Linked DNA regions of Homo sapiens: region 2 is linked to region 1. The links come from fine-mapping of genetic effects on gene expression. Tissue or cell type: fibroblasts. Region 1 holds a variant in brackets; the other region holds the start of a gene. All regions are shown on one strand. Distances are from middle to middle.

Region 1 (2,683 bases):
GCACCCTGGGAAAAGAGTTTCCCTTCTGAAAAGCAATCTTGCTTTCAGCCAAGTCTTGTCTTTTCCTTTTTTTTTTTGTAAAGCAATGAAGTTATTGCATGTTCCAAAGGCATCGTGAGGTACGGCCACCCCTTTGGCATGGCATGTCTGTATGCCCAGGATGCATATACCCAATTAGTGAGTTCCACATGACTGCTGGTGTTGGCAAACATCTACATCCAGCTGGTGCTCAGACTTTTGGGGATCAGTGGAAATTTTAACAATTATTTGACACAGACTTATTCGGTCAGAGAAACGGTTGTATCACAGAGAGCTAAATGTCCAGAGCTAATGAAAGATGATGCAGTGATTAGATTGACTTGCAATCTGGGTAATAATTTTTATACTTGCATTTTGACCACATAAATAAAAGAATGGGACTGATTTTCCGACTGCATTGCATATGAAGGGAGGAGAACGTTATTCTCTCTTCCCTCTTCATCTGAATATTAGAACTTTTTAAACCTTCAAACATGGCAGGGGCACTTCCACCCATCATTTGAATGAAAGCCAGTCTCACCTGTCTGTCTTTCCATTCAGCAGGGAATCACTTCATGTGTGAAGCAAGCAAAAAAGATAGACATGTAAGCGCTTTCTCTGTCTCTTGTAGAATTTTTATCTTTTGGCCTTTTCCACTTCCTAGTCTGCATATGACCTAATATCCTATTCCTCATGGCCAACTCTTGATAACAATGAGAAAACAAGTCCTGATAAATGTGTTATGTATTCATTAAGCATTTCTATCTTGTAAGACTTTTTCGTTTTTGTTTTGTTTTTGCAAAATCATGACAATATCTGCTATATTTCAGATATTGTTTTAACAAATCTGTAATCTGAATGAAAGCAGGATTCGTTCTATAATTCTCAGTTTGGATGAGAAATAAATGATAAACAATGTCCCACTGGAAGAGACCCCTCCAAAACATCATGCCAAAGGAGGGAGACCACCATATTCAGTGAAAATATTTAACACCTTGGACTGTTTCCCAGTGGGATGCAGACCAGACAAGAAGAACAATTCAGGCTGCTTAGGAGACTGTCTGGGGATCTCTGTGAATGGCATCTGCACTGGATAGATATTTCTTCCCCTCAGATTCCTGCTCCTGTGTATGTGCA[C/T]GACTTACAGCTGAGTCATACTTTTCAAGAATGAATGTGGGTGTCACAGTCAGTGATCTGTGATCTATTCCTGCTCCTGTGTATGTGCACGACGTACGAATGAGTCATAGTTGTCAAGAATGAATGTGGGTGTCATCAACAGTGATCTGTGGTCTATCATTTCATAAATAGATTGTTCCAAAAGTACTTTAGGCACAACTGAGCACAGATAGTCTTTGGATGGCTTTAATCCAAGCCCATTTCAATATGCCTCTTTTTATTGTCCACACTTCTTTCTACTACCACTAACTTAAATAATTCATATAATCAGCTAGAAGAGTTTTCAATGAAAACTCATCTTTGAACACAAGAAATAAGGACTGAGAAGTGGTGAACAACTTGCAACTGAGGTATTCTGAAAATAGTCCTAACATAATGTCCCCCAGGTGTAGCCATATATGGTAATTTGGTAAATCAACAATGAAGTCTTATGCAACAGTGAGAATCTAAGTATCAAGCACTAGATGAGGTACTGGGCAAGAGAAATACAAAAGAGAACACTGCTTTACCCCATCCCCAAGGAGATCTCAGGGACAGAAATGTCAGCATCTACCTCAATACAATGACAGCTGAGTGACTATCTCAAGTGAGAACTGAAGAACGTATCACAGGAGAGCTGATCTTGGAGAAAGAAGAGGAGTTGGCTTATTAGAAAAGAGAGCCTGGTCGCGGGTGCCTGTAATCCCAGCTACTCGGGAGGCTGAGACAGGAGAAGTGATTGAACTCATGAGGCTGAGGTTGCAGTTAGCCAAGATCACACCATTGCACTCCAGCCTGGGTGACAAGAGCAAAACTCCATCTCAAAAAAAAAAAAAAAAGAGAGAAACGAAAAGAAAAAAGAAAAGAAAAGAAAAAGAAAAGAAGAGGACATAGTCATTGAGAGAACAATGGCTCTGTGGTCAAAGGCATGCCAATGTGAAAATCATGACACATTCAGAAGATCGTATAGCTGGATATGTCTGGAGAGGGTCATGGGCGGGCCACGGCACAAAATGAATTTCTTGTCAAGACACTATAAAAACCTACACAGATAAATCAGGGGAGATTTGTTATAGGGAATAATAATATTTCACTGAACTCAAGGCTAGGAGGTACAAGTAGGCTGAGGAACAGGAACAGTATTGGAAACTGAAGCTCTCTACCTTTGTCTTTGTCTTCCTCTTTCTGGGCCATGAGGTCACTTATGGCTGCAGCTCAGTTCACTGGTCAACAGTTCTGAATTGTTCAGTCATTCATCATTCAGCAAGAATGCATGTGCCCATCCTCTGTGCTCAGTGTGCTCTTTATTAACTACATTGTGATGGAAAATGGATCAGGGCTGGTTTCATGGGCAGAGACTTACACAGTCAAATGGTCCCACATTTGGTTTAACGCACTGCTACCACTATCTTGCAATTCTGAATAATTTCATGAAACTTGTGTTTTGTAAGAAAGTCTAATGGGATGAGGGAGCATGCACATGAGCAGAGGAAATGTCCACAGTGCCTTC
Region 2 (2,683 bases), 360 kb after region 1:
GGCAAGAAGGGGCCGCAAGGGTTTCCGCAGACACCCACACATGCAGGCGTTCCCACAGAGGGTACCAGGGATTTCCCAGACCCCCACCAGCCCTCAGGAATAGCGTAGAGAGAGGAACGTCGCCTGGCTGAGAAAGGTGGATGGGCATACCCATGTACCTTTGTGTATTAAGTACCCACAACCTCCGAACTTAGCCGTCCCTGTCCCGGCCCGCCCAACTGCTGCCGCCGCATCTGCAGAAACCACTCGTGTTGAGGCCTCGGAGCAGCCGGGAGCACCACGCTGGAGCAAAAAAGCCGGAGGGCGCAGGGCTCCAGCCCGGCTGACCATCCCACCCAGCGCAGGGACCAACGGAAAACCCGCGCGGCGCCAGGACCAGGGGGCTGCCCGACGCCGCTCGCGGACTAGTTCCTCAGACTGTGGGACTCCCTAGTGCCGGCTTTGCCCAGGGCTTTCCAAGGCTGTCTCATGCCCTAGATCTGCCCCAGCAGCTCAGGCCTTGGACTGCGAACCCAGTATCCCGAGACACCGATTCCATCAGTCCCCATCCCGACCCCTCTCCAGCCGGGTTCATCCGCCTGCTGCCTCCCGTCCTCCACGTTTCCCCCACCAGCCACCAACAAGCGGCAACCACGCTGCCTTCTGCAAAAGAGGAAGAAGGAAAGAAGGGAGAGAGAAAGAAAGGGGGGGAAAGGAAGGGAGGTTTAGAGACTGGAATAGAATCCGCAGCCACATTCAGAAACTTACTCGAGCTTGAGAAAAACAATTTAAGAAAAGTAAAAAGGAAGTGTCCAGAGCAGGAAGGGAATTCACAAATGTAGCCTCCAGCGGGAACAGCTCCCTGGCTGCCGAGCTCCAGCGGGAGGGGAGTCGAGCGTTTTCTTTGCCACTTACCTAGTCCCCTGTCTACAAAGCTGGTGATCGTATTAGCCGACTTGGAAGACTGGAAAAAGCTGGCATTGATGCCCAGCTTCTCAGCGATGGAGTAAGTCCTGTAGATTGACAGCATGTACTCGTGGGGCACCACGCGCGGACCCCTGCCTGGCGGCTCCTGCGCCCGGGGCTGCTGAGCCCGGGGTTCGTCCTGAGGCCGCGGCTGTGGTTCCTGGCCCTCCCGGCCCGCGTCACTGTCGCGCGGCGCCCGCTGCATCTTGCCTTCCTTGCGGCTTCGCATGCCCTTGGTGGAACCCAGCTCGGCGGACGACGAGGAGGATGAGATGGAAGCCTGCTGGAAACCGGGCAAATCCCACAGAAAACTGATGAGGAAGACGGCCGAGAGCAGGACCCTGGGAGTATCCATGGCGGGCAAGTGGCTGCGTCTCCCCAGGAGGCGGTGGCGGCGGCGCAGGACGCGCGGGGCACGGAGCGGCTGGACAGCGGCCGGGGCCCGGCTCCTCGGGCGGACTCGGAGTGCGAGGAGCCGGGTCCCAGCCACACAAACCCCGGCCCCGCCACGCCCCCTCCCGCCCCTCGCCGGGAGGGGAGGAATGGGGAGGGAGGGCAGAGGAGGGGTGGGGAGGGTGGGAGGAGAGCCGGGTGGTGCGGGCCGGAGGTGTGGGGGAGAGGGGCCGCGGTGCGCCGGTGTGGCAGGAAGACGCAGCGCCCCCGCGGGACGCGCGCGGGGTTGCCGGGCGGTGCGCGCGGCGCGGGCCGCAAGCGCTGACCGGGGGAAGGCGGGCGCTGCCGGCCCGTGGCCGGGGAGCAAAGGCTGGCCCGCCGCGCCAGGGTCCCCCTCGAACTCCCGGAGGTGTGGTCCCTCCGCAGCGCGGCCCCGGCTCTCGGTCCTCGCCAGCCGCCTCCACTTTCCTGGGAGCGAGCGGCCCCGGAGGAGGGAAGCGGCGGCGGCGCCCCCAAGAGACAGCTTGGAGCAGGCGCCTCTGCTGCAGGCTGCGTGCTGCCTCGGGGCGGTGGTACCCTCCCTCCTCGGCCCCAACCGCCAGGCCTGCCGTTTGCGCCCCTCAGGGGCCAGCCCGGAGCCAGAGAAGCCTCGCCCTGGGCCAGGCGCAGGGCCCAGCTCGGAACAGCCCCATTTTCTCGGTTGGGTATCGCTCTCCACAAAGACAGGCGTCTATTCCCGACCCTCGAGGTCAGGCAAAGGCCACGAGTCTTTAGAGTTTGGATCGATGCTAAAAGCTGCTGCGCTCCCCTGCAGGCCCCAGCCTCTCCTCTCGCAGTCCCCAACCTCTTCTGACGCAGACTTTAGCTGCTCCACTTCTTCGTCTGCTCCCGGGATCCTCTCCCTCTCGCGGCCTGCCCCCCGCCTCCACTGCATCCCCATTTTCCCTCTCTTCTTTCCCTCCCGCCTGCAGGACTTCCTCCTTCCCCAAGTTCCTTCTGCATTCCAATCCCTCTTCCCCAGCCTGCTTTTCTTCTCACACTGCCCTCCCATCTCACACTGCCTTCCCACCCTCTCTCTTCCCGGCCTCCCCCCTCGCCTTCCAGTGGACCCCTCCCTTTGCAGCTCTACCCCAATCTGTTTCTCTTCAGCCCAGCCTCGCCCCATCACGAGTTTCCTTTATCTGTCCCCAGATTCCCCGTGCCTGTCTTCCCCGCCCACTGCCTCGCTCATTCCTGGGCCTGCACGCTGAAAGGCGATGCGGCGTAGCGCTGCTTCTGTCTGCCACAGTGCTCTGCCCTGGACTGCTATGGGCAGAAGAGTTTCCCTCAGTACTGATTGGGTGCT

Direction of the effects. Positions count from the first base shown, and alleles are read on the strand shown. Sizes are in standard deviations (SD) of each study's normalised expression.
For the expression in fibroblasts of the gene that starts at base 1,414 in region 2, C is the low allele of the variant in region 1 and T is the other (moderate effect, 0.45 SD a copy in GTEx).

The links. PIP is the estimated chance that this variant, and not a neighbour inherited with it, causes the effect.
Region 2: it holds the start of GDF6, and the variant in region 1 is fine-mapped to the expression of GDF6 in fibroblasts (GTEx, PIP 0.98).

What each region holds. Positions count from the first base shown.
Region 1 is chr8:95,800,843-95,803,525 of GRCh38, forward strand. The region is part of intron 3 of CFAP418-AS1 (CFAP418 antisense RNA 1); the gene reads left to right. Among named protein-coding and RNA genes, the nearest start is that of GDF6, 360 kb to the right of the region's middle. The variant C/T (reference allele first, on the strand shown) is at 1,156.
Region 2 is chr8:96,159,393-96,162,075 of GRCh38, forward strand. GDF6 (growth differentiation factor 6) reads right to left here and starts at 1,414. Exons shown (of 2, transcript NM_001001557.4): 1 at 895-1,414. The coding sequence starts at 1,300.